Linked DNA regions of Homo sapiens. The protein of the gene in region 4 interacts with the protein of the main gene of each other region in a pairwise test. Each region holds a gene or a part of one and is shown on either strand. Other genes may lie near its edges. The genes, in order: MUTYH, HSBP1L1, KCNK5 and AGTRAP.

Region 1 (8,659 bases), about 34 Mb from region 4:
ATGCACCAGGGCCCGGAACTATGCCCCTGGCTGACTGGCAGGAGCCCCTGGCCCCACCTATTCGCCGGTGGCGTTCCTTGCCTGGTTCGCCTGAGTTCTTGCATCAAGAGGCTTGTCCATTTGTGGGCCGGGAAGAATCGCTATCTGATGGGCCCCCACCACGCCTAAGTAGTCTCAAGTACAGAGTTAAAGAGATCCCACCATTCCGGGCATCTGCCCTACCAGCTGCTCAAGCCCATGAGGCTATGGACTGCTCCATTCTCCAGGAAGAAAATGGTTTTGGGTCCAGGCCCCAGGGGACCAGTCCATGCCCTGCGGGTGCTTCTGAGGAGATGGAGGTAGAAGAAAGGCCAGCAGGCTCAACTCCAGCCACCTTCTCCACCTCAGGCATAGGCCTGCAAACCCAGGGAAAGCAGGATGGGTGAGGGGGTTTAGTCCCTGCCTCACCTTGGGGATGGACCTTCAGCTGAAACCATATGGCCCCCTAGGTGCACAGCCTTGATTCTTCCCTGGAGCCTACAGAGCAGGCAGGCTAGGCCAAGCCAGGCTCAACTTCTGGGCTCCCAGTGCCCATTGGCTGTGTATGACGGGAGGCAGCAGTGAGAGGCCTTCCTAGTTAGGGCCAACAGCTGATACCAAGCCTCTGAAATCCAGCAAGGAGGTCTGCCTCCCACCAGACCCTCTCCAGTGTACTTCCCCAGATAGGACCAGAGGATGTCTAGTTCTAGGCTGAGCTGGCAGGCAGCTATTACCCCGGTTCTTTCCCCACCCCAGGTCTGTCTCTTGCCTTTTCTTGGGGCATATAAGCTACTGAGTGGAACATGGAGCTGATCAAGAGGCCGTAATGGTCATGGCTGTTTCCCAGACCTGAATATTGGGGTGCTTCTTGCCAGTATTCTAAGACATTTGAGTAATTGCTGTTTGCACTTACTGCATGGTCAGACCACGTCACTACATTTCTATGCAAGGGGACAGCAAGGCAGCGTGGTGGTCATGGCTCTTAGCTAACCTATTCAAAGACCTTTTCCTGTTGATTAATCTATTTTCATATTTATAAAGGAGTCTTAATGTTCTGCCCCATAAGACTTTCAACCTTGTGGTTGGGAGTGGGGCTGGTTTTGTAGGCCCTAGGGCCTGCTTCTATGTATTTATCAACATGTGATACATTCAATTGGTTAAATGGTTTATACAGGGACTGATTTGCTTCCCTTCCTGCCATGGCTGGAGCTTTGGGAACAGTCTGTCCTTACAGAGCTGCAATAAGAAATAACCAAAGATGAAGCTGGTCAAATATTTTCATAACTTGCTTCTGTTGATTTTTTTTTTTGTAAAACTTTCCCAAGACATTTTCAGACTTAAAAATAAAGTCAGTGTTACAGGTGCTGGTCAGCCTTCTTACTTGTACCTCAAACACTGGGATAAAGGAGGCGGTCCAGGGCAATGCAGTGATGTCTGTCAAGACATTCCCCCTCCCCTAAACTCAGTAGCAGTTGAGGATGACATTTCAGGCTAGAGAGACCCAAAATACCTCTGTTCCACCTGAGAGCAAGGTGGAAGTTGCATCAGCTACTGCCCCAAGTGAGCTTCATCTTCTGATTGTGGGCTTTGGAGGAACGAGAGAACTGGCTCTTGGCCACTGTGAGGGGTACAGCTTTGCCACTCAAATATACCTTATTGTGGCATTCAGGGAGCCAGGGTCCAGAGCTGCAGGGCTGCGGTCCCTGGCTCACTTCCACATAGGCCATCACATAACCTGTCATAAAGGCATCAAAACCAGCCCGGTGCAATCCATCCCCAGGCACTGGGTTAGGACTGGCTTGGCTCCCTGGCACTTCTGAGGTAGCTCTATCAGCTATTTCAGGCCTTGCTGCCTTAATCCCCATCTCTAAGTCATTTTTGTTGCCTTGCTTGGAGTGAGGCAGGTTCCTAGTTTCATCGGCAGCCACCTCCTGCTCGGTTTCTTCAGGCTTGATGCTATCCCCACAGACCTGCTTCTTGGGAGGACCATCCTTAGCTTCCCCAGAGGTCTGTGTCCCCGGTAGGTTCAATAAAGCCCTCTTCCGTTTTTCCCTACGTCGTCGCCGTCGCCGCTTGTCCTCTGCCGCAGCCTCATCAGTGTCAATGATAAGGTCAATATCGTGAGACTGAGGACACTGTGGTCCCAGGGGGCACCAGCCATAAGCCTAGGGGTGGGAAAGAGGCTTAGAAAGAGGCTCCAGGCATCAGAACCTTCCCTCCCAAGAAACAGGTGGGTGCTCTCACCGAGAAGTTGTCACAGATGCTGGTGGGATGAGGACGGTGGGTTGCTGGGGGCAGGCAGCAGCGGTAATCAATATGGTCCCTCATGCTGGAAGGATAGTTGCAGAACTCCAGGGTAAGGTGTGGGCTGCCAGCTGCCCGCTGCTTCCCATTTTCCCGTTCACTGCAACAGCGCAAGAGGGTAATGGTCCACTAGCATATAAGCTCCATAAGAGCAGGGTTTTGTGGTCTGTTTTGTTCACTGCTGAATCCTCAGCACCTAAAACACTGCCTGGGCACATGGTAGGAGCTCAATAAATATCTTAAGTGAATGAAATAAACTCGTATCAGGCCCCACCCCTTTCCCTCAACCATTTCCTCACCATTTCCGGAAGGCATATTCTAAGTAGGAGGCCACGAAACGGGCATGAAACTCAGCAGCATATTTGGTGTCATAAATGCCTGCTGGGAACATCTCACACAGGTCAGCGGTGAAGGTTCCCAGACTCTCAGGGAGGTGTGCATAGAAGTTCTGGTACAGGAACACCAAGTCTATAAGGCCATTGTGTAGCACCAGGGGCCGGCGGGCTCGGATTAGCTCCAGGAATAGGGTCCGTACTGACTGGCTCTGGCTCTCATCACCCTAGATGAAAGTAAAGGGGTCAATGAGGAGGACAGAGTCCCCCAGGGAGCCTCTTCTGCTGGGCACTTATCCCAGACTTCCCCACTTGGAACGCTCTCTCTCTACCTTACCCAATGCTGCCCACCCTCCTCATACCAGTCTTGTTTCCCAAGCCCTGTCACTAGTGATTCCCCATACTCCCTAAGAAGCAGATTCTCCCCAGACATCCAGCCTAGGGTAGGAAGAAATAAAGTCACAGAAAGGGCAGACTCAAGGCTAGGGAGGCTAGAGGCCTACCTTGTCATTGCCCTTATGGTAGGGGATGCCTTGGGCATACTGCTGGTTGAAGTTGAAGCCATGCTGTATCAGGAACTGCACAGACTTTGGTTCTATGACATACTCCTCCATGCACAGCAGAGTGAGATTGAACACTTGAGCCAGATAGGAATGTTCACCCTGGGAGAAAGAGAAGTCTGCTATATCAAGATTTCAGAGAGCCAAGCTAGGAGGATGCAAAAGCTTAAGAATGATACAATGGACTCTGGGGACTCAGGGGGGAAAGGATGGAGGCAGGTGAGGGATAAAAGACTACGCATTGGGCACAGTGTACACTGGGTGATAGGTGCACCAAAATCTCAGAAATTGCCACTAAAGAACTTACTCATTTAACCAAACACCACCTGTTCCCCATAAACCTATTCAAATAAAAAAAAAAAAACTATCAAGTCAAAAAAAAAGATTTGGGAGAGAAATGCTTCCTATCTGATGTTCCCTAGAATCTCTCTACCCTCCACCCCACAGCCACACCTAGGATTGGGGTGAGATCAGCTCATACCTTGTCTGGCTGCCGCTTGAAGCAGGCGAGGCCCAGGGAAAGGATAGAACGGGTCCTGGCAGCATGACACACGGCCTTGTAACGTTCCTCAATGCACCTTGGGGTTGGGTATGGGGGTTGCTGTGGCTAGGAGTTAGCCTTATGAAGGACCCAAACCACCCAGGTCTGTGACCCCCCCACTCCACAGTTGAGGGCTGGCACTAAAGAGAAAAGGGCTTATACTTACTGGTTCAGCAAACTCTTCCTGTCCCCAAGCCCACTCAGCTCCTGTGGGTAGGTAAAGGGAGAGTTGTGACAGGCCTCTAGCACCAGCCCCTTCACAACCACCTGCCCTCCTTGTTTCCCAACTCTCACCGTGTCCACAGCCACGAAATTAGCTGTCTTTATGGCTAGCAGGAGGGATGGCCACATCTCCTTGAAGTTGTTGCTTTGCACATCCACTACGGGAACCTGGACTACTAGCTCCTCCCCAGATGTTGTGCTTTTGCTGACACCACCTGGGGGTTAGGAGGGTGATGGATGTTCATGCTTAAGGAAAGAGCCCAGGGGAACAGACACCAAGCTAGGCCACGGTGATGGTGGTAAGGGGGGTAGTTTCCATTGGTAGCTTTTCCCACAAGCCTTTGTAACCCACGTGTTCTACACACAGGCCTTGGAGTGGAGAATGCCCTGAATTTGGGGAGAGGAAGCCTGAGTCTTCTACTGGCTTGTATGAGCCTGGGTAAATTACTTCCCACCTCGCTTTCACAATCTGTAGAGGAGAAAGTTGGACTAGACGACCTTTGATTCTTTTTTCCCATGTCCTGCAGGAAACATTTTGTAGGGCTTGAGGATCTCAGCTCCCTTAATATCCCACAGGGATCCATACTACTGTTCTCATGGTGCCCCAGCGCCACAAGCAACAGCTCCCAGTAAGCCCCAGAGCCTGGCAGTGCCCCACACCAGAGCTCCCAATACGTCCTACCTTCCTTTGGATCACAACGCTCAATCCACTCCACTGAACTGAATCACAACTATTACTACTAACCGTTATGAGCTCCAGACTACATCTCCCGCCATGCCTCCATCAGCCCCATGCTCCCAACGCTCCAGGCTTTTGCAGCCGGAGCCGCGGTGTACAACGGAACTTGTAGTCTCCTCGTGGCTAGTTCAGGCGGAAGGAGCAGTCCTCTGAAGCTTGAGGAGCCTCTAGAACTATGAGCCCGAGGCCTTCCCCTCTCCCAGAGCGCAGAGGCTTTGAAGGCTACCTCTGGGAAGCCGCTCACCGTCGGAAGCTGCGGGAGCTGAAACTGCGCCATCGTCACTGTCGGCGGCCATGACACCGCTCGTCTCCCGCCTGAGTCGTCTGTGGGTACGCTGGACTTGCGGTCCGTCTCCTGGCGCGGTTCAGGCAGTCGGGGATGGGGCGGGGTCTCGCCGTCGGGTCGCCGATGGGTCGAACTTCCGTTCAGACGTCCCGGGTCCGGCGCGGGGAAGGCAGCCTGGCGCGCGCTAATTGCCTATTGGCCTGTGCTGCCGGCTCGCAGCCCGGGTGGACCCGAGCCACGCCCCCTGGAGTGCGCCGGAAAGCCGGGCGCGCTAGAGCTCGCGGGAGGTAATCTTTCTCTCCTGCTCTCGCGGCGGGAACGCGGGGCCTCCGTGTTCTGCTGTCTTCATCAGCGTGGGCCGCGGGTAGCGGGTAGTGGGGTGGCTGGGTTTGGGCTTTCCAGAGAAGGTGACGCTGCCTGAGCTGAGCTTAAAGCACGCCCAGGAGTTAGACTAGGAGAGGGTCGTGTGGGGGAAAGAAGGGCGTTCTGGGCATCGGTAAATTCCCAGAGAGGATGGAGAGCTCAGTGATCTCCAGAAAGTGAAAGAGGCGGGGAGTGGGCCATCGGAGGAGGCTGCCCAGGGTGTAAGAGCGACCGATTGGTAGGGAAGCTTTTGTAATAATCCAATCAAGTGATAATGTGAACTTGAATTAAGGCTGGCAGTATGGATGGCGAGGAAGGGACAAATTGTGAAGCAGCTAGGCGGTATAGTCGACCTAGAGGGTGATTGAATTTGAAAGAGGTTCCTAGGCCGGGCGCGGTGGCTCACGCCTGTAATCCCAGCACTTTGGGAGGCCGAGGCGGGCGGATTACCTGAGGTCCGGAGTTCAAAACCAGCCTGGCCAACATGGTGAAACCCCGTCTCTACTAAAAGTACAAAAAAAATTAGCTGGGTATGGTGCGGGCGCCTGTAATCCCACTACTTGGGAGGCTGAGGCAGGAGAATCGCTTGAACCTGGGAGGCAGAGGTTGCGGTGAGCCGAGATCACGCCATTTTGCACTTCAGCCTAGGCAACAAGAGCGAAACTCCGTCTCAAAAAAAAAAAAAAAAAAAAAATTCCTATTGGAGACTAGTCCCTCCGTAAACACTACGATTCCCATCCACCTCTGCCTTCCAGTGCTCCTTTGTTACTCATTGTTTATAGTTAATCTTCAGCTTCTCTCAACTGAGCCCATTTCATCATTATTCAGAACTGCTTGGGCCGGGCGCAGTGGCTTATGGCCTGTAATCATCTTAGGAGGCCAAGGTGGGAGGATCGCTTGACCCTAGGAGTTCAAGACTAGCCTGGGCAACATAGTGAAACCTTGTCTCTACAAAAAGAAAATTAAAAATTAGTTGGGCATGGTGGTGCGCACCTGTAGTCCCAGCTACAGGAGGCTGAGGTGAGAGGATGGCTTGAGCCCAGGAGGTCGAGGCTGCAGTGAGCCATGTTCTTATTGCACTCCAGCCTGAGTGGCAGAGCAGCAAAGTGAGGGACACACTGTCTCTAAAAACAAAACAAACAAACAAAAAAAAAACAAAAATAAAAAAACTCTTTGGATTTCTCCTATCCTAAAAAAGGGAAACTCTTTTGACTATCCCCCATCCCATTAATTCATTTAACAGGTATCTATTGTGTACAGTTTACCTGGCACTGACTTTGGACACACACCAATCAACAAGAGAATCAGTCCTTGCACTCAAGTCGTTTTTTACAGTCAAATTCAGGAAGTACACACTGATGGAAAGAATCAAAGTAATGTAAAATTACATTAGGTAAGAGCTACAAGGCAGAAATATGTGATAGGATAAGATGAGGGGACCTGATTTGGACATTTCAGTCAAGACTTGAAAAATGATAAGGTGTTAGGTAAAAGCATAAAAGAGTCCAAACAGAGGAAATGGATTGTGTGAGGCCCCAAGGTGGGCAGACACACTTGAGGTGTTTAAGCAACTAAATTCAGTCAACCTTGGCTAGAGCATAGTGAGGGGATGAGGCGGATGGTGCCCGGATCACTGGACCTGCAAGGCTGTAGTAAGAGGACTGCCTTCTAAGAGCAAGGGTGTGGCAGCCAAATCCCTCCAATGGCCTATAAGGTACTTTGTGACCCTCCTCTCCCCACCTCATCTGGTTTACTTCTCTGACCTCTTCTACCACTCAGTCCCATCTCATTCCATTCTAACCACATTGACCTACTTACTGTACCACAGACATACCAGGCACCCTCCTTGGGGCCTTTGCACTCACTTAGAATGCTTTGGGTCTACCTTGACCACAGTCTTTAAAATTGCAACATTAAACCCCACCTTGGCACTCTTTTTTTTCCCCTCTTGGTCTAATTTTTGCTTTTTATGCTAATATTTATCACCTAACATCTTATGGAATTTACTTATGTTCATTATTCCTTTTCTGTCCCCATTAGAATATAAGCTCCCTGAGGGCAGGAACTTTTGATGTTTTATTTACTGAAGTATGCCAAGTGCCTAAAACTGCTTGGCACATATTAGGGGGCTCTATAAATATTTGCTCAATCTTTTTTTTTCTTTAAGAGACAAGGTCTTGCTGAGCCCAGGGTGGAGTGCAGTGGCACAATCATAGCTCACTGCAGCCTCGACCTTCTGGGCTCAAGCTGTTCTTCACTTCAGCCTCCAGAGTAGCAGGATTACAGTGTTGAGCCACCACAACCAGCTTGCTCAAGAATTTAATGACCCATAGTAAAGGCCTACAGTATTTAAAAAAGAAAGAAAAAGGAAAAAAGGAAGGAAGGAAAGAGGGAGGGAGAAAAAAAGAGAAAAGAAAGAAAATAAAAGAATATAATGGGGTGTCACCAGGCGCCGTGGCTCATGCCTGTATCCCAGCACTTTGGGAGGCCGAGGCGGGTTGATTGCTTGAGCTCTGGAGGTGGAGACTAGCCTGGGCAACATGGTGAAACCCTGTCTCTAACAAAAATACAAAAATTAGCTGGATGTGGTGGTGGTGTGCGCCTGTGGTCCCAGCTGCTTGGAGTTGGGGTGGGGTATTGGGGTGGGAGGATTGCTTGAGCCGAGGAAGCAGAGGTTGCAGTGAGCCAAGATCACACCACTGCACTCCAGCCTGGGTGACAGAGTGAGACCCCATCCCAAAAAAAAAAAAAAGAATGGGAAACCATTGAAGGTTATAAGGAAGGAAGTGACGTGATCTGGAAAAGATTCCTTTGCTCTTTGGAGAATAGATTGTAGAATGAATGTGGAAGTAAGCAGGTTTGGTGAAGGAAGTTTGGCTATGAAGGGAAGGAGGGTGGGATTTGATTGTGTTACGAGCCAAGGGGAAAATCTTTCCCTTTGCCCTCTGAAGATCTGCTGAAAAATCAGCTCACAAAAGGCAGGTTAACTGGAGAAAAGGCATACAAATTTATTAACATGCACATTGGGAGAACCATAAAGTGATTACCCATCTCCCTACAGAGTTCGTGAGTTTATATACCATCTGGCAAAACAGATTATGGGAGGGGTGTCTCACGTGTGTCCATGTGAAGAGACCACCAAACAGGCTTTGTCTGAGCAACAAGGCTGTTTATTTCACCTGGGTGCAGACAGGCTGAGTCTGAAAAAAAGGAGTCAGCAAAGGGTGGTGGAATTATCATTAGTTCTTATAGGTTTTGGGATAGGCATTGGAGTTAAGAGCAATGTTTTGGGGG
Region 2 (8,167 bases), on a different chromosome or scaffold from region 4:
AGTGAACAAATATGGGATTGTATGTTTCAAGATGAAAGCAGTCAAAACATACGAAAACGGTTGACATAGTTTGCTAATAACCTTACCATTTGTTCTTTAATAGAATTTTCAATGCCAGCTTGCACCATTAAGTCCTTGACATTCTTCTGTAAGTCCTCAATGCGATTTCCCATTTCTTCCAGTACAGTGTTAAGGCGCTCTGCGTAGAGCTGGAGTCCAGAGCCGCCGAGGCACAGCCAGGATGTCCTCAGAGACTCCGCCTCCCATGGCACATGCAACTTTTGAAATGAGGGAATCAACGACAGGCCTAGTGTCCATGCAAATCAGCTTCTTTCCCTGAGTTTTCCTCAGTGTGTCTCTTTAACCTTTAAACTGTGAGCTTAGAAAACGTGGCTCCCCTTGCTTGGACATGGATTTGGGGACAGGAGATTGTCTGGTATATTTTAGTCAAACTCTGGGTATGTAAAAATAAATATAATGGAATTAACTCTTTTTTGTTTGTAGGGTCTTGCTCTTCCCCCAGGCTGGAGTGCAGTGGTGTGATCACAGCTCACTGCAGCCCTGAACTCCTGGGCTCAAGCGATCCTTCTGCCTCAGCCTCTCGAGTAGCTGGGACTATAGACTACCACCCAGCTGAAATTAACTAAAAAACTAACATTCATATGGTTTAATTTTATGTTTAAGACTCATTTTTGTCCTGTGGGAACCCATTTACAAAATCAAAAGTTGCAAGCACACAATATTTAAGGAATATATTTAATTGTGTAGCATGAGCTCAAATTGGGCAAGTCTTGGGGCAATTGTGACCCTTATCTAGATTTGCTCCAACTCCAAAAAAAATTATATTCTCATTCTGTTTGATTTCATGTTTCTAAGACAAAACAGTGAGTTGGCGATGTTAAACTAAACAAAACAAAGTTTGGGAGAGCCGTATCTGGGATCCTGTGCTTCAGTGTTATGCTCTGTGGGGTCTATGGTCTAGGGGGCACTGTCCGGTTGGGGACTGATGGAAGCCCCACTGGGAAGTGTTATATGTTTGTGTTTTTGTCCTTTATACTTGCTGCACAAGACATCCTGTGTTGCCAGTCAAGCAGGAGGTAGAGCTTTTTTTTTTTTTTTTTTGAGACGGAGTCTCGCTCTGTCACCCAGGCTGGAGTGCAGTGGCGCGATCTCGGCTCACTGCAAGCTCCACCTCCCGGGTTCACACCATTCTCCTGCCTCAGCCTCCTGAGTAGTTGGGACTACAGGCGCCCGCCACCATGCCGGGCTAATTTTTTGTATTTTTAGTAGAGACGGGGTTTCACTGTGTTAGCCAGGATGGTCTCCATCTCCTGACCTCGTGATCTGCCCACCTCGGCCTCCCAAAGTGCTGGGATTACAGGCGTGAGCCACTGCACCCGGCCGGAGGTACAGCTTTTGCTATAGGTGAGGGGTAATTAACACATCAGGAAGCCACATAAAAGCACAGAAGTAAATACTGGGAAATCCTAAGTAAACTATTACCTACTACTACCAGACAACAAAAAGATACTCCATGATAATCTACCAGTCCGAAAGAATCACAGCATTTGTTAAAGGTAGAAAAGGATATTTCTGAGGTTTAATGTTGCCGTCAGAGCTTGAAAATGTTCCTGAAGTTCCTGAAATAGATTTTCTGCCTGAAAAAATAAACCGTAAGACAATTGAATAAATATTTACTGTTGGCATATGAGTTTTTTTTTTTTTCTGAGATGAAGTCTTGTTTTGTTGCCCAGGCTGGAGTGCAATGGCGCGATCTCAGCTCACTACAACCTCCGCCTCCTGGATTCAAGTGATTCTCCCACCTCAGCCTCCAAGTAGCTGGGATTACAAGCATGTGCCACCAGGCCCAGCTAATGTTTATACTTTCAGTAGAGACGGAGTTTCACCATGTTGGCCAGGCTGGTCTTGAACTCATGGCCTCAGGTGATCTGCCCACCTTGACCTCCCAAAGTGCTGGGATCACAGGCATGAGCCACCACACCTGGCCCACGTATGACATTTTAAATATCATGGGATAAGGCCGGGCGCGGTGGCTCACGCCTGTAATCCCAGCACTTTGGGAGGCCGAGGCGGGTGGATCAGGAGGTCAGGAGATCGAGACCATCCTGGCAAACTAGGTGAAACCCCATCTCTACTAAAAATACAAAAAATTAGCTGGGTGCAGTGGCGGGCGCCTGTAGTCCCAGCTACTCGGGAGGCTGAGGCAGGAGAATGGCGTGAACCCGGGAGGCGGAGCTTGCAGTGAGCCGAGATCGCGCCACTGCACTCCAGCCTGGGCGACAGAGTGACACTCCGTCTCAAAAAATAAAAATAAAAAAAATAAATATCATGGGATAAACCCATCCATAAATCTGTTGACTTCTGACAAAGGTGCTAAGGCCTTTGGATTCAGAGGGAAAGGAAAGTCTTTTCAACAAGCAGCGCGGGAATCATGAGGGCCACGTGCAGACGGGGCAGGGACCCATCCCCCTCCTCACACCACACACCATGAATGCAGGAGATCACACACCTTGGCCCAGAGCCAAGGCCATAAAGCATGCAGAGGAGGATGCAGGAGAAAATCTCGTGACCCTGCGCTCCTCAAGAATTCTTATGAAATTACTTACCAGGTCACACAGAAATACCACCATTGCTACTGAAAGCGTTTCCTGTTTATATACTGCTTTGTAGTTTACAGACTGACGTCCCACACCATTCACGGTGTAATCTACTCCTCACCCTGCGACCGTGTCCAGGGTGAGATGAGAACAGTGAGGCTGAGAAGCACAAAATTCTCCCAGCTGGGGGTTCAAGATCCCAGGGAGCCCCACGTACCATGGTGTGAATCTAGAATCCCGTCGACATAGGAGGAGGCCCCACCTCTGAACCATGCCAGGGCTTTCTACCTTTGTCAGGAAATTTACGTTAGGGTTTGCACAACGCCCAACACATTCCTTCAGATTCCAGGTCTCTTCCTCATAGCCAGTCCTCTTGTGGGCCTGGAACTCTTTGGCAAGTAGGAAGGCCTGGGGAGCGGGAGGATTTCCCGGAAGAGGCCGGAGCCCTGGGCGCTGCGACACTCGTGGGTCCCCTTTCGGGCACCCTTTGGCCCAGTTGTTTCCCCACTGACCCCGACCTCAATGCCCCCCAGTACTGCAGGGCTCCCCCCAGGACCTCAGGCCCCCCGAGGATCGCAGGGTCCCCCAGGACAGCAGGGCTCCCCCCTGCACCTCAGGCCCCCCCAGGACCGCAGGGTCCCCCAGGTCTTCAGGGGCCCCCCCAGGACCACAGGCCTCCCAGGCACTCAGGACTCCTCAGGACCACAGGAGTCCTCAGGATCGCAGGCCCCCCAGGACCTCAGGGCCCCACGAAGACCGCAGGGCACCCCCAGCACCGCAGGCTCCCCCCCCAGGACCTCAAAACCCCCCAGAACCGCAGGGGCGCCCCCATCCAGAGAGAAGCAGGAGTCGGGGAGGGGCTCACCGCGTCCCGCAGCGCGCGCCCGCCGGGGGCTTCAGGGCCCCGCACGTCCATGTGGACCGCTGGCCGGGGGCGTCAGTGGGGGGTCCCGTGGGCCGCGCGGACCCGGCGCGAGGTGGCGACAGCTAAGCTCCGCGATTCCCGTATGGGCCGCCGGGAGGCCTCGGGCGGAGCGCGCTGCGTTCCAGGGCGGAGGCGGGGCCGGAGCGGAGAGGCGGGCGCTGCACCTGCAGGGACGCAATGTCACCGAGCGGCCGCCTCGGAGGACTGGTCCGCGCCCCCAGGCTCTGCGGCTTCCCGAGCCGAGCCGAGCCGAGGCCCCGGGACGGCCTGGGCGGAGCCGCCTTACTCAAGAGGGCCCGTGGGCGCCACCGGCCACCTACACCCCCAAAACGCTCCGCACGGGCAGTGCATGGGCCTCGGTCACCCCTGCTGCGTTTCTCAGAGACGGGGGCTCGCTCTGTGGCCCAGGCTGGGGTGCAGTGGCGACTATGGCTCCCCGCAGCCTCGACTTCCCGGGCCCAAGCGATCCTCCTGCCTCGGCCTGGCCAGTAGCTGGGACCACGGGCGCGCGCCACCAGGTCCGGCTGATCTTTTTTATTTTTTGTAGAGACGGGATCTTACTATGTTGCCCAGGCTGGTCTCGAATTCCTGGGCACAAGTGATCCTCCTGCCTCGGCCTCCCAAAGTGCTGGGACCGCAGGCCTGGGCCACCACGCCGGGCCTTCCCTGGCCTCTTTCACACCTGGGTTGTGGCTCGTCACCTTGTGGGTGACCTCCCAGGACGGTGTTTTAGGGTTACCAGTCTTGTTGCCATGTCTGTGCCCCTGTGCAGCGCTGTGGGAACAGGGCTATGTCTGGTCACCCCAGCATCCCTAGGGCACAGCCCAGTGACCACACCTGGAAGCTCTGGTGTCTCCATGTGCGGATAAATAAAACACAGCCACCCAGCACCACCGCTGTGGCGTGGCGGTTCCCGCCAGGTTACTTCAGGGCGGATGTCTGTGGCCTGAACCCTAAAGGCCAGGCGGTGAGTCCAGGCCACGGTGCCCAGCGAGGAGCAGGTGTCCCTGAGAACCCAAACAGCCCGGAGGGGATGTGAGAACCACCACAGGGAGCAGGCCCATCACACAGACGGCGCAAAGAGGCAGAAAATTAGCTCAAAAGCAGCTTAGGGACAGAAGCACGCTCATCTCTAGAGTTGTCCTGCTGCCCACGAGTGCCCCACATGTGAGTCCTAATAAACTCACCTACTCACCAAGCTGGACTCCGCCCAGTCATTCTTTGGTCTCTCAGCAACTCCCACTTTAGGGTAAGGTTTTAAATGTGATTCTCGGTTTTTCTCATTACAACCAGTCATCAGGAAAACACAAACCAAAACCACAATGAGCTCCCACTGCAACCCACCAGCATGGCTAGAATCAGAGAGACAAACGTAAGTCCGAGAGGCGTGTGGGGATTGTGGCCCCCCCCACGCAGCCGGTGGGCTGTGAAAGGCTGCAGTGCTGTGAAAAAGTCGGGTGGGTCCTCAGAAGTGAAGCAGTTTCCACAGGGCCCAGCCGCGCCACCCCTAGGCATATACCGAAACGACAGCGCGAGTGCACCAAGTCTACTGCAGCATCAGTAATGCTCAAAAGGTGGAAACCACCCAAATGTCCACCCCCAATAAGTAGGTGACAAAATGCAGATGATAGAATATTCCTCAGCCACACAAAGGAGTGAGGCGCTGACGCACGCTACGAAGCAGGCGGGCCTCCGGAACAACGCTGGGTGGCAGAGGCCAGGCGTGAAGACCCTGAGTGGTAAGTCCATGGAGAGTTGGAACAGGCAAGGCCACGGAGACAGAAAGTTGACTTCTGTTGCTGGGGGCTGCAGGGACGAGGGAGAGTGCGGAGAGATTTAGGAGGTCTGGGGTTTCTTTGTGGGGGGACAAAAATGTTCTAAAATTAGATCGTAAGAAGGTTTCACAACCCTGTAAATATACTCAAAACTGTTGAATTATGCCCTTTAAATGGGTGGGTTTTGTGGTATGTGAATTACATTTCAATGAAGCTGTTAAAATTATTTTTTAAAAGCATGGCCATTTTGCCACTTTTTGTGTGCTTTTAGCATCCTCCTCTTTTTTTCTGTCTCTGAGAGAGGCTGAGATACAAACTTAGTTGTAGGGGCCAGTGTGGACGGCTGAGAAAGACGCGGTGTGGGTGGAAAGTGGCTGCTGTGCTGTGGCTCCCGGCCCACTCCCAGGACCATTCAGGCCTAAGGAATCCTGCCGGGCGGCTTCTGGCTTCTCGGGAAAGCCAGTGTGGGTGGCTGCTGAGGAGGAGGAGGCAGGGCCAGAAGATGCCACAGTACAGGGTGGACGGCCTGCACCCAGGAAAGCCTGCCTGGCGTGGGGGGCAAGGAGTACAAGCCGGTGGTGTTTCCATCAGAAACACACCTCAGTGTCAAGAACCAGAAGTCACTCAAGCTAACTTAGGGGAAAAGGAAATTACGCCTGTAGAGAGGAGGCAGACACAGCGGGCTGGCGTCAGCCCTCCAAGCTCTTCAGAGGGCGCTCATCTCTGGAGGCGGGAGGAGATGGGCAGTGGTGCCCCACGGCAGGGCCACGACAGGGTTCCTCATCAGCCCACAGGCAGCTTTCCTAACCACAGACAGCTAAATGAGCAGGGAGCCAGTCAGACTGCCCTCCTTCCTCCCTTCCAGAAAGTTCTAGAACGTCCCCTCTTCCCTTACTCTGCAGGCACGGAGTTCCCGGAAGCTTTACTCCAGGGACAGCCCAGCATCAAGCTCATGGCTTCAGGGGACGGCTCCCTCGTGGTGGGGGCAGGCGCAGACCCAAGGGCTTTCGGTGTCTCCAGGGCGGGGCTGCTCCCTGGCTGCCGCTCCTCCCTTACTCAGGCGGAGCAGGGGCCACAGAGCTCTTGACAGCACTGAGCTCACCAGTGATAAAGCACTTCGGACAGCCGTGAAGGCAGACTGGCGTTGGGACTTTGGAGAGCTTGTGGGCACCCTGTGGAACCCGTTATCTTCAGATGTTGACTGGCTGACTCTGGGTGCAGGTTCAAGCTGGGCACCCTGTCCTCATGGGCTATGCGTTCCTAACCACAGACAGCTAAACGAGCAGGGAGCCCCACTGGCCCACACGAGCCTGGAACTGGCCCTGCAGAAGACGAGACGAGCCTGCCTCTGACCTGGGAACGCCTCTCTCCTCTCCAGCCGGCATCGGCCAGGCTCATATTGGGCCGTCCCTCCAGCCCTGGCTGCTTTTTCAGGTCAGGCTTCTTGGGCAGCCCGAGTAGGACCACCCAGCATCGCCGCACACAGCAGCCTCAGGCCTCACCGACATAGGCCGGGTGGTCTGTGGAGATGACAGGACTGCCTTTCTTTTTTCTGGGATTGGGTTTTGCTGTGTCACCCAGGCTGGAGTGCAGTGGTGCAATCATAGCTCACTGTAGCCTTGAACTGGGCTCAAGGGATCCTCCTGCCTCAGCCTCCCGAGTAGGTGGGACTACAGAGGCACGCCACCATGCCCGGCTACTATTTTTTATTATTTTTCTAGAGACAGGGATCTCCATATGTTGCCAGGGCTGGTCTCAAACTCCTGGGCTCAAGTGATCCTCCCACCTCGGCCCCCCAAAGCGCTGGACTTACAGGCACGAGGCCATGCTGGCCAAGGACTGGCTTTCGAGCAAAGCTCTTCAGCTGGATCTGATGGAGACAACACAGTGAAGGGGTGGGTTGCCCCTCCACACCTGTGGATGTTTCTTGTTAGGTGGAACGAGAGACTTGGAAAAGAAAGAGACACAAAGTATAAAGAAACAAAAAGGGGGCCCAGGGGACCGGCGTTCAGCATACGGATCCACACTGGCACCGGCCTCTGAGTTCCCTTAGTATTTATTGATCATTATCGGGCGTGGCAGCAGGATAATAGGATAATAGTGGAGAGAAGGTCAGAAGGTAAAAACGTGAACAAATGTCTCTGCATCATAAACAACGTAAAGAAAAAAGTGCTGTGCTTTTGATGTGCATATACACGAATATCTCAATGCCTTAAGGAGCAGTATTGCTGCCAGCATGTCCCACCTCCATCCCTAAGGCGGTTTTCCCCTATCTCAGTAGATGGAATATACAATTGGCTTTACACCGAGACATTTCATTGCCCAGGGACGAGCAGGAGACAGAAGCCTTCCTCTTATCTCAACCTCAAAGAGGCGTTCTTTCCTCTTTTACTAATCCTCTCAGCAAAGACCCTTTACGGGTGTCGGGCTGGGGGACGGTCAGGTCTTTCCCTTCCCATGAGGCCATATTTCAGACTATCACATGGGGAGAAACCTTGGACAATACCTGGCTTTCCCAGGCAGAGGTCCCTGCAGCCTTCCGCAGTGTTTTGTGTCTCTGAGTACTTGAGATTAGGGAGTGGTTTGAGGTTAGGGAGTGGTGATGACTCTTAACGAGCAAGCTGCCTTCAAGCATTTGTTTAACAAAGCACATCCTGCACAGCCCTTAATCCATTTAACCCTGAGTTGACACAGCACGTGTTTCAGGGAGCACAGGGTTGGGGGTAGGGTTACAGATTAGCAGCATCTCAAGGCAGAAGAATTTTTCTTAGTACAGAACAAAATGGCCCTCTGCTCAAATTCTACAATGCCAATATGGACTGCGGGTCTTCAAAGTGGTCTCCTCTACC
Region 3 (3,762 bases), on a different chromosome or scaffold from region 4:
CTGGCTCCATTCTTCCTTCACATTCTTTCCAGTCCACAGTGCCCACGCTCAGGCTCTACATTTCCTGCCCACCCCTTGAGTTGAGAAGGCTTGAGCTTCGCTCAAGTTCTCTGGTCCACCTACCTGGAGACAGGAGCCCTTTCCAGAGATGTTGGGTGTGCCACAAAACCACAGGTAGTCTTTTTCATCTCATCACAGTGGTAGAGGGGACAGGAGCTGGGCTGCCTGGGTTTGAATCTAGTCTCACCATTTTTACTGAGATTTTGCACAAGGCAACTTCTCTGTGCCTGTTTCCTCGTCTATAAAATGGAGATGTACTGATGCCCTCTCAGGGTTCTTGCCAGGTCAAATGAGTCCACTCACGTATTATTCAGTGCAAGCATTTAGTGCCTGACAAAGTGGTGAGTGACATGCGTTTGCCATGATCACCCCGCCTCTCCCCTTGCTCCTCCCACTCCTTCCTGATTCTCAAACCTCTACTGCAATGTTCCTCCCGCGTCCTTACCTCCCCACAGAGGCCTGCCTCTCCCCGCTCTCTTCATCTCTTTTCATTCTTTTCTCCCCTCCAGACCATCCAATCCTCTTATCAGTCTGTCCTGAGTCCTCTCTATCTTCTGTGGATGCGCCCAGGCTCCCCTGCTGCTCAGAGGCCAGAAGCCAACCCCTCTCTAACCTGACCCACACACAGCACACACCAAGCTGGCCTGTCCACCTCATGTTTTATTGTAAAAATGTTAAAATAAATTACATTTGACATCGTTGCCAGTATGTACATACAGTGTGCGCGATGCCAGGACAACCAGCAACAACATGGTTCATTAAAACATTTCACAGAAAAATACGAGGCTGCTCCTTTTCAGGCCCCTGCTGGGTGGCGGCCTCTGCAAACGGCTAGAGAAGTGGGGGTGTGGGCACGTGCCCATCACTGTCTTCACATGTTGGGGAGGTGGGCTCTGGCCCCACTGCCCCACAGTAGTGGGGCAGAAGGCAGAGAGTGAACGGAGCTGAGCGGCTCTGATGACTTGCTTCCTGCCCGGCCTCCAGTCACCCGCAGTGGATGCCCCTTCCTGCTTTTGCTCACCTCAGTGTCCCCTTCTCCACCTCTGCTTGGGGACATGGCCCTTGACATCATGGCCTTGGATGAGGTCACCGAAAAAGGCCCAATTGAGTTGCAGGGCAGGAGGGCAGACACTAGATCTCCCAATCCTTGGGACCCTGCTCTTTAACCACTGGCTCTGAAGCCAACAACAGATTCCAGGTATATAAAAACAGCAGTTTGTTTAAAAAATAAAACAAAAAATAACAAAAACATTCAGGACACAGTGGGCCAGCCCCAGGGTGAACATCATGGAGAACCCAAGAACTCTAGTAGCAGCAAGTTCTGCCCACCCCTCACCAGAGAGTCCACCAACAGTTTCACATTATCTTTTGCTCCCCAGCCCAAATCCTTTCCTTTCTTAAACACACACGAGTGCACAGGTGTGCGTGTGCACACACGCACTGTGCACACACACGTGCACATCAAACACTAGCTAGAGAAAGGAGCTTGATTCACATATCTGACCATCACCCATTTGTGGGCCAAGAGCAATTTGGCCTCACCCTGCCTGGCCCAAGGGGGCTGGTGGGAGGGGAAGGCGGGCAGTGAGGTCCTTGTTCAGGGCACAGGGAAGGAGAAGACAGCAGGATTGGGAGTGCAGGTCCTGGGGCCAGCGGGCAGGGTGTGCAGTTCTCAGGCGGGCAGGAGGGGTAAGGGCAGAACCAGCCAGAGCTGAGCCTCACTCTTGCAGCTCCCTGGCCACCAGCCCTAGCAGTCCCGGCTTCCAGTAACCCATGCTCTGCTACTCTCCCTCCTACCACTTGGGGGCCCACAGAAAGCCTTGCGTCTGCCACTGCTTGACCTGAGACAGGGAACACAGCTCTGGGCTGGGCCTGAGTAGACCAACAAGGAGGATGAGGACCCCAGGCCCCAGGCCCACATAGGACTTGTTTCCAGGCCCTGTGAGTCAGGACTGTTTGAGACCCTGCCCTCATCTCCTCACTCCCACCTCCAGCAGCCTCCACCCCACTACGGTTTGTAGTAGGTGCCCGACCTGACCGGCAGGCCCACAGCTGGGATGCGGGCGGGCCCTGCTCCTGCTGTGGTACGGAAACACCTGACCCCACGCACAGCGGTACCTCCCCAGACACTTCAGAGCTCCCTCTCCAAATGCCGAGCTCAGTAATACCGGTAAACTTAAACAGCTGAGGCCCCAGACCTCAGAGAACCGTGTGATACTCCACCAAATGGTGAGACAAAGACCCTGCAGGCAAGGCCTCCTCAGGGTCAGTCCTGCCCACCTGTCCCGCCAGCCAGCATGTCTTTGCATTGTGAGATACACCAGCCAAGCTCAGGACAGATGCCCCCACAGCCAGGGTATGGTTCAGCTGGAGAACAGAGGCCCTGTCCCGGGCATACATCTAGCTGAGGATGATGGAAGGTTAGGAAGGCCCCTGGCCCCCCACTCCCAGTTCCGAGGCTGCCCCCCCACCAGGGGCCAGGCGTCCCGGTCATCTCGGGACACCCTAGGGTGAGGGGGGAAGAGGCCATCAAAGGTGGGGTGGGGAGCCGGCCCTGCCTCATGTGCCCTTGGGGCTGTTAGCCTTGTTGTACTCATTCATCAGCTGTTCGTAAGGCACAGAGAGCTCAGACTCAGTGCTGGTGAAGGTGGACTCGGAGGAGGAGGGGAACTCGCCCATGTTCAGGGGCGCCTTGGCTTCAGCCCCCTGCTGGGGGCTCTCCTCCCCTGCCAAGTTGTCCTCTAGCGAGGACTTGGAGGTCTCCTCGTCTGAGAGGCCAGCCTCCGTGTTCACGAAGGTGATGCTGGCGTCCTGGAAGATGAGTGGGTGGTAGTCCTGGGCGTCCCATGGCTCGCATTCCTCGCTGATGCGGTCCAGCTGGTTCATGAACACCTCGGGGGCAGGGGAGCTGTCTTCAGGGGCCCGTGCCACAGCCTCCTCATCTGGGGACCTTGATACGTGGCCTTTGCTCCTCAGTGTCTGTGACACCTCTTCCAAGGTGGGCACCCGGTTCTTGGAGTAGACTACCAGGGGCACCAGGGAAGGGGGCAGTGCTGGGAGCCCACCGCCTTGAGGCCCCAGCCCTGGGCCCGGGCCCGTCTCCCCACCCCCGCTTGTCTTCATGGCCTTCTTCCCGATCTGCTTGATGAGGTCGTTGTAGGTCTCTTCCTTCTTGGAAAGAAAGCTGAAGATGTTGACGTCCTTGGAGGCTGTGCTCCCCTTCACCTGCAGGGCCTTCCGGGAGTGTGGGGAGCTCTCAAAGGACTCCTTCCGTCGCCGCCGCCGCTTCTTAATGGCTTTGTGGACTTCCACAAACATGCTCACCTTCCAGTTGACAAAAAGGGACAGCCAGGCCAGCCCCAAGTAGATCCAGAGCTCCACGAAGTAGCGGTACAGGGCGTGGTAGTTGGCGCTGGGGTTCACACCTGAGCGGACAGGCAGTCCAGAGGTCAGGAAGAGTTAGCAGGGCCCGGGAAATGTGCAATGGCCAATGCTGTGTGATCTGAGCAGGGGTCAGGCCAGAGCACAGGACGGGGGTGCAGTGGGATAGAAAGGGGCCTGTTCTAGACCCTGGACTATCCCATCTTCCTCAAGGGCTTGGGCCTGCCATCATTCATGACCCCATCCCAGTCTCCAGCCTGTCTCTGAGTCTCGGTTTCCTCAACTAGAAACGTCAAGACAGGCCAGGCATGGTGGCTCACG
Region 4 (7,757 bases):
CAAGGCAGGTGTGGAGTGCCATTCGGTTCAATAGGTCTTTGAATAAACCATCTTATCTTTTGCTTTTAAGAAAGCAGGTGCCTGGGTCCCAGCCCAGAATCACCAACTCAGAATCTTGGGGAAGTGTGACTAAGAAATCTGTATTTTGGCCCTGCTTCTCAAGGTCGTGAATCATGATGGTTACAGTTCACATTACTCACAGCTGTTGCCCTGTGCGCTGCACTTCGAAGTTTGCAAAGTGCACAGGTGAGCTCAATGGTTTCCAGTCTTGGTTTGGCAGAGAAATGTCTCCAGAAGCTCAACAGATTAAAAGAGATGGTAAAGGTGAAAATCAAGCTGCAGTGCTGAGGCCTCACTGTGGGGCAGGCCCTGGGGAGCTCTGATGAGCACTTCCACGTCTCCCTCCCAGCTCCTGCAGGGTGTGCAATCCTTATGCCTATTGTACAGACGGAAATCAAGACCCGGAGAGGCAGAGCTGTCTGGCCCAAAGTGACCTGGTTAAAACACGGCAGAACCAGGACCTGACCCGGCTGACACAGACCCTGAGACCGCAGGAGACACACAAGATACCCACAGAGTCACTTACCAGGTTGTCAGCAGCCAGTGACCTAGGAGAATCACCTGTGGCACAACAAGGGGGAGAGAAGAGGTCTGTGAACATGACCACCACAGGGGCAGGAAAGCGTCGGGTGCAGAAAACACAGGACGCCCCTGCGCCTGGCACCTCTGAGGGCCTCAGTAATGTCTGTTGAAAAGGCACACCAGCAACTGCAGGTGGCCCAGGAGTGAAGGAGGAGGAAGAAAGCAGGCCAGGCCAGGGAGGGGCCGCTTCATGCCTTCACCCCTCCCATGGGGCAGCTGACACCCACACCCCTTCCAAGCGTCAGAGGCGTATGAACCAGAGCAATTCCATCTTGAATAGGAGCTGGGTAAAATAAGGCTGAAACCTAGTGGGCTGCATTCCCAGATGGTTAAGGCATTCTAAGTCACAGGATGAGACAGGAGGTCAGCACAAGGTACAGGTCATAAAGACCTTGCTGACAAAACGGGTTACAGTAAAGAAGCCGGCTAAAACCCACCCAAATCAAGATGGCCACGAGAGTAACCTCTGGTTGTCCTCACTGCTACACTCCCACCAGCACTATGACAGTTTACAAATGCCATGGCAACGTCAGAAAGTTACCCTATATTGTCTAAAAAGGGGAGGCATGAATAATCCACCCCTTGGTTAGCATACTATCAAGAAATAACTATAAAAATGGGCAACCAGCCTGGGCGCGGTGGATCACACCTGTAATCCCAGCATTTTGGGAGGCCGAGGTGGGTGGATCACCTGAGGTCAGGAGTTCAGGACCAGCCTGGCCAACATGGTGAAACCCTGTCTCTACTAAAAATACAAAAATTAGCCGGGCATGGTGGTGTGTGCCTGTAATCCCAGCTACTCAGGAGGCTGAGACAGGAGAATTGCTTGAACCTGGGAGGTGGAGGTTGCAGGGAGCCGAGATTGTGCCATTGCACTCCAGCCTGGGCGACGAGAGAAACTCCATCTCAAAAATAAGTAAATTAATTAATTAATTAATTTTTTTAAAAAGGGCAACCAGCAGCCCTCAGGGATGCTCTGCCTATGGAGTAGCCATTCTTTTATTCCTTTACTTTCTTAATAAACTTGCTTTCACTTTACTCTATGGACTCGCCCTGAATTCTTCCTTGTGCGAGATCCAAGAACCCTCTCTTGGGGTCTGGATTGGGACCCCTTTCCTGTAACACAAGGGTGGGAGGCTCCTTTGTGGAATGCAGGGAATCTGCTCTGAAATCAGAAGAGGCCTCGATGGGAAGCGGAGCGGTGGGGACTCACGTGAGGGTGATTTCTTGGGACACTGGAGCTGGCGCACTGTGGGGGGCAGAGGGGAAAGCAGCTGTTGTGGCTGGAGAGAGCGGGCAAAGGGAGGGTAGCTGGGGACAGGTAGGGGGGCCTGAGGGCCTCGGGAAGGAGCGTGGGCTTCATGCCAAGTGCAACGAGGGACACCACTGAGACTTTTCTACAGGGAGATAGCTTGGTATGCCTTATGGTAAGGAAAAACAACAACAAAATCCCCCTGGCTATTTTTCTGGATTTCTGCAATATTCTACTTTTTTCTTTTTAAATTTGGAGACAGGGTCTTGCTCTGTGGGTCAGGCTGGAGTTCAGTGGCGCCATCACAGCTCACTGCAGCCTCAAACTCCTGGGCTTAAGTGATCCTCCTGCTTCAGCCTCCCCAGTAGCTGGGACTACAGGTGTGTACCACCACGCCCAGCTAATTTTTGTTTTTTTGTAGAGACAAGGTCTCCCTATGTTAACCAGGCTAGTCTCAAATTCCTGGGCTCAAGCAATCTACCCACCTTGGTCTCCCAAAGTGCTGGGATTACAGGCAGGAGCCACTGCACCCAGCTACAATATTTTACCCTTTTTAATGTCCTCTGTGTCCTTAAAATGACAGCCTCCTCTCCTGGAACTGGTCTCTACTCCGGGACATCAACAAGGCCCTGACTGGAAAGCACATAGAAAAAGGGCAGATGGAGGCTGGGCACAGTGGCTCACGCCTGTAATCCCAGAACTTTGGGAGGCTGAGGTGGGCAGATCACCTGAGGTCGGGAGTTCGAGATCAGCCTGACCAGCATGGAGAAACCCCGTTTCTACTAAAAATACAAAATTAGCCGGGCATGGTGGCACATGCCTGTAATCCCAGCCACTCAGAAGGCTGAGGCAGGAGAATCGCTTGAACCCAGGAGGCAGAGGTTGCAGTGGGCCGAGATCGCGCCATTGTACTCCAGCCTGGACAACAAGAACAAACCTCCGCCTCAAAAAAAAAAAAAAGGAAAGAAAGAAAAAGGGCAGATGGGCTGGGCGCGGTGGCTCACCCCTGTAATCCCAGCACTGTGGGAGGCCAAGGCAGGTGGATCACTTGAGGTCAGGAGTTCGAGACCAGCCTGGCTAACATGGCGAAACCCTGTCTCTACTAAAAAGACAAAAATTAGCTGGGCATGGTGGTGGGCACCTGTAATCCCAGCTACTCCGGAAGTTGAGGCACGAAAATTACTTGAACCTGGGAGGCAGAGGTTGCAGTGAGCCCAAAATGGGCCACAGCACTCCAGCTTGGGTGACAGAGTGAGACTCCATCTCAAAAAAAAAAAAAGAAAAGAAAAGACAGATGCCTTGGGAGGGCAGGCAGCTGCAGAAAGAGCTTCCAAAGGGAAGGGACCCAGGCTGAGCACAATGTATGAGCGGGGCTCGGCCAGGCAAAGTGGGGCCAAGCCCCAGGCCCTGCATGGGTGGCGGTGGGCATGGAGATAACTGAGGTCGGGGTGGGGTGGCACAGAGACTTTGGGAGGCCAGGAGCCCCAAATTGGGAGCTTCAACGGGCCTGGTGGTCAATGAGGGCCCTAGAAGTTTACTCAAGGGATTGAGGGGTCAGGCTGGAAGGGAGAGATGCCACATGCCTGGGGCAGAGGCAGTGTCCTGGCGCAGACATGGGCAAGGTTTGCGAAGAAGGCCGGGGTTTCTGGCCTGGGTGGAAGGGCAGAAGGAGCCCTCACCACCTGCAAAAAAGAACTGTGGGCCAGGTCTGGTGGCTCACGCCTGTAATCCCAACACTTTAGGAGGTGGAGGGAGAAGACTGCTTGAGCCCAGGAGTTCGAGAACAACCTGGCTAACAAAGTAAGATCCTATCTCTACAAAAAATCAAAAAATTAGCCAGGTATGGTGGAGTACATCTATAGCCCCAGCTACCTGGGAGGCTGAGGTGGGAGAATCACTTGAGCCAGTGAGGTCAAGTGTACAGTGAGCCAAGATCATGCCACTGCACTACAGCCTGGGGGACAGAGCAAGATCCTGCCAGAAAGAGAAAGTAAGGAAAGAAAGAAAAGAAAGAAAGAGAGAAAGAGAAGGAAGAAAGAAAGAAAAAGAAAGAAAAGGAAGGAAAGAAGGAAGGAAGGAAGGAAGGAACGAAGGAAGGGAAAGAAGGGAAAGAAAGGACAGAAAAGAAAGACAGACAAACTCACTCTGGCAGCAGAGGAAAAAGCATTTCTAGAAGAGTTACTCTTGACCACACACCAACTATGTGCCAGGCCCTATGCCAACCGTCTCACATGACCTTATCTGGACCTCACAGCAGCCTCTGGTACTATTATTCCCATTTCACAGATGAGAAAACCAGACTCAGAGATAAATTATGTTGATCAAGACTCCACAGGTAGCAAGTGGCAAAACTGGAATTAAATTTCAAACTCGCCTCCAAAACCAGTGCACCCAACCTCCCCGCTGGGGGCGCAGGCCTTCAGCTGGGAACTGTTTGGGCTTGTGAGAAAGGTCCACACATGGGGGCAGATGGAATCCAGAGCTGGTGGCTGAGATACTTCACCTTTACCTCCAGGGCCCAGGGCCAGAGTGAACCACAAGGGGCCTGGCTCTGTGGCCCAAAAGAAATTCCTTTCTCAGCTCCAAGAGACTAGGAAAATAATTCTGTAAGGACCGATGCACCCAACTTTAAGATCTCGAGACTCTGACCAGGCTGAGTAGTGTGTTACAGAAGTCTAGCTCTAGAAGGAATCTTCGCCATCACCTCACCTACCTTCGTCTACTATTGAGCGCTTCCTATGTGCTAGGTGCCATTCTAAGTGCTTTCTGTATATAAATGCACTAAATCCTTACAATCCTCTGAGGTCTTATTATCCCCATTTTACAGCTGAGAAAACTGAGGCTCAGAAGGAAGTAACTTGCCCAAGGTCACAGAGCAGGCCAGTGGCAGAGCCAGGACTCAAACCCAGGCTGTGCTGTCCAGCCATTAGGCCTCTCCCCATTACAAAGATGGGGAAACTGAGGCAAGAGAGGTGTAGTCTTCCATGGATTTCAATCCCCAGGGGCTTGAAGTGATAAACGGTGTTAAGTTTCTTAAACATTTAGTGTCACCCAGCATCACTGGCACCTGCTTTTCATTCACCCTGGGGAGTCAGAGGTGTGCAGAGCAGATTCGGAGCTGCGCTCTCAGTACTGACCTCGCTAACCAGGTACTCTGCCCTAGGAATGGAGGTGCAGTGAACCCTCATCCCGAAGGAAAGCACCTGATTGAAGGAAAGCATCCTGAAGGAAAGCAAGGGAAAGGGCACCTGATTGAACAGCAGGGAGGCTGGGAGGGTTGGGGTGGTCAGGGGCTTCTCTGAGGAAGGGATGGGGGAGGCTGAGGGGGAAGAAGAGCATTTTGAGCAGGAGGGGCGGCACTCACAAAGGCTCTGTGGCAGAAGGGGGGCGTGGAACTTTCTGGAAACTGAACAGAAGCCAGTGTGGCTGGAGTGGAAGGTGAGGGGAGTGGAGGAGGGAGGGACAGGAAGTTGGGGGCAGGCAGGGCTGGGCATGAGGACGATTCTGATCTTTATCTTCAGAGCTAACCACTGTCCCCTCCATCTGATAGTAAACCCTGGACCACAGACAGGAAGGAACTTGCTCAGGGCCACACCGCAGAGTCAGCCACAGTGGTCCCAACATCCAGCTTTTAAAGAAGACACCGAGGAAAGAGACAGAGGGAAGGTAGCTCCCATCACCCCTTTCCTCCCCAAAATCGACACCTAACTCTTCCCACTCTGGGCTTGTTTTGGAAATGATCTTCATTTTCAATGCTCTCGCTCCTATGCCTAGACTGTACACAGAGTAGGTCTTTAATAAATGGGCCCTGCAGAGCCCTGGATTATTCCGGAAAGAATGGCAGTTAGCATGAAAGGCTGAGTCCCAGGGGGGCCTCTGATCCGCAGGATACCCTAAGGGTCATGCTTACAACCTATGAGGTAAAGGCTTTTCCTAGCGCTGGAAGGGCCTGTAATACAGAGTGAGCACCCAGCTGGGCCCACACCTCTGCCATCTCTGTTAGGGAAGAAAACAACGTAACCTGGAAATACTGCAGATCCTTAGCACACACACAGTCTCCTCTGCGTGACGTCACTTTGGTTTGATAAATATGAACAAAGTTAGCACCAGTTGCTCCTCTTAAGCCCCTGGGAAAAGAAACGTCCAGAAGCCTAAGCCTCCCCTGCCTCAGTTTCTTCATCTGTGTAACAGGAGGACACCCAGAGAGGCCTTAATGTGCAGGAAGACTCCAGGGAGAAACTGAGCCAAACGGGCCCTGCACTTCCTGGCAGCCCAGGGAAAGAGGGGCCAGTAACTGTCAGGACAAAACCACTGTCTTTTGGCCCTGGGGGAGCTTCCTGGTAGCCAAAGAGACACAGGATTCTCAGGTATGGCCTGAAAGAGGAGCTGGAAGCAGGGAAGGAACCTGAGCTAAACGGGTGGCAGGGCCAGGACCTTTCCCAGCTGGGCAGGAAGGACGGACCTGAGCCCCTGGACTCTCACTACAGTGCTCAGCCCAGGGGAGGCCGCCCAGCTCTTTCCCAGACAGGGGTCAATGGACCAAGGCAGCAGAGGGTCCCAGGATGCTATGCTGGAACAGGAAACCTGGGTGCTGGTCCAGGCGCCAAGGCCTCAGGCTCCTTTCTGCGAAACGGAGGCAGTACCCATTTGTCCCACGGGGGTGCCTCAACTGCCAGAGACAAGCATCTATCTGGACGGTCACTGTAAGTATCCGTTTACTAACTGTTAAATACCTATGTGGGGCAGGGATCCTGCATCATCAACGACAGCAGCAACTCCTGCTACTGACAAGCACCAGCCTGCCATGCATCTACACTGCACTGCCCCTAACTCATGTCATCCGTGTAACTGTATGGGGTAGAACTGAGGCTCTGAGAGATTAAGTAAATTGGCCCAATTCATAAAGCTTACAAACAACAGAGCCCAGACACAAATGTCAGAATCAATCTATCCAGCCAGAGTTTTTGTTTGTTTTTTTGAGACAGAGTCTTGCTCTGTCGCCCAGGCTGGAGTGCAGTGGTGCGATCTCGGCTCACTGCAACCTCTGCCTCCCGTGTTCAAGTGATCCTCGGTGCCTCAACCTCCTGAATAGCTGGGACTACAGGCGAGCACCACCACACCCAGCTAATTTTTGTATTTTTAGTAGAGGTGGGGTTACATCATGTTGGCCAGGCTGGTCTCGAACTCCTGACCTCAAATGATCCACCTGCCTGGGTCTCCCAAAGTGCTAGGATTACAGGTGTGAGCCACCACGCCTGGCCCAGCCTGAATTTGTAACCCTAATTCTAGACTACGTCCTGGACCATGGATCCATCATCCTAGGAGGTAGGGACTGTATTTAACTTCTTTTTACAATGAAGAAATAGATACTGAGAGAGTTCAGAAACCTACTCAAGGTCACACAGAAACCTACTCAAGACCTTGAATGCAGACCTGCCTGCCCCCAAAGCCTGTGCTCTGTCCACTGTGCTACACCGTCAGGATCTCGAAGAGCCGTAGAGGGCAGATGGAAATGAGGAAGTCTAACCTGGAGAAGGAAAGGCTGAAGAGAAACCAGCAGGGCATGCAGACCAAGACTTAAACCCTTTGTTTGCCACTAGAGGACCCATGGCGGGGTAGGACTTCCCAGAAATGGAATAAACTCCTACCAGTCCTGTGCAAACACTTGGTGGCCTGTTACACGTGCTAGTGAGATCCCCCAGGGTGGCCGGGGCCCAGGGACACCAGTCAGGGCTGCCAAGGATGGGAGGCAGAGTTGTGCAGCGGTTAACTTCGTGGGTACTGGAGGCAAACAGGTGGATCTGATCCTGGCTCCATGACTTTAGAACCTAGTGACCTTAGGCAAGTCACCTGACCTCTCAGA

What was found.
Region 1: the proteins of AGTRAP (region 4) and MUTYH interact in binary tests that used the Homo sapiens proteins (3 or more experiments, as listed by UniProt).
Region 2: the proteins of AGTRAP (region 4) and HSBP1L1 interact in binary tests that used the Homo sapiens proteins (3 or more experiments, as listed by UniProt).
Region 3: the proteins of AGTRAP (region 4) and KCNK5 interact in binary tests that used the Homo sapiens proteins (3 or more experiments, as listed by UniProt).

What each region holds. Positions count from the first base shown.
Region 1 is NC_000001.11:45,336,606-45,345,264, reverse strand, and holds the start of MUTYH (adenine DNA glycosylase), read left to right. Parts: upstream 1-5,294; 5' UTR 5,295-5,366; exon of another isoform or gene 5,367-7,067; coding exon of another isoform or gene 7,068-7,079; intron 7,080-8,659. Other genes in the region: TESK2 (dual specificity testis-specific protein kinase 2), read left to right, coding at 1-425; TOE1 (target of EGR1 protein 1), read right to left, coding at 1,563-2,183, 2,263-2,422, 2,622-2,881, 3,158-3,316, 3,696-3,792, 3,922-3,962, 4,050-4,192, 4,943-5,012. UniProt on the Homo sapiens protein: Involved in oxidative DNA damage repair. Initiates repair of A*oxoG to C*G by removing the inappropriately paired adenine base from the DNA backbone. Possesses both adenine and 2-OH-A DNA glycosylase activities.
Region 2 is NC_000018.10:79,960,103-79,968,269, reverse strand, and holds the start of HSBP1L1 (heat shock factor-binding protein 1-like protein 1), read right to left. Parts: upstream 3,628-8,167; 5' UTR 3,535-3,627; coding exon 3,484-3,534; intron 1,659-3,483; coding exon 1,592-1,658; intron 182-1,591; coding exon 87-181; intron 1-86.
Region 3 is NC_000006.12:39,188,271-39,192,032, forward strand, and holds the end of KCNK5 (potassium channel subfamily K member 5), read right to left. Parts: intron 3,486-3,762; coding exon 2,620-3,485; 3' UTR 701-2,619; downstream 1-700. UniProt on the Homo sapiens protein: K(+) channel that conducts voltage-dependent outward rectifying currents upon membrane depolarization. Voltage sensing is coupled to K(+) electrochemical gradient in an 'ion flux gating' mode where outward but not inward ion flow opens the gate.
Region 4 is NC_000001.11:11,738,667-11,746,423, reverse strand, and holds part of AGTRAP (type-1 angiotensin II receptor-associated protein), read right to left. Parts: intron 1,892-7,757; coding exon of another isoform or gene 1,856-1,891; intron 622-1,855; coding exon 587-621; intron 298-586; coding exon of another isoform or gene 201-297; intron 1-200. UniProt on the Homo sapiens protein: Appears to be a negative regulator of type-1 angiotensin II receptor-mediated signaling by regulating receptor internalization as well as mechanism of receptor desensitization such as phosphorylation.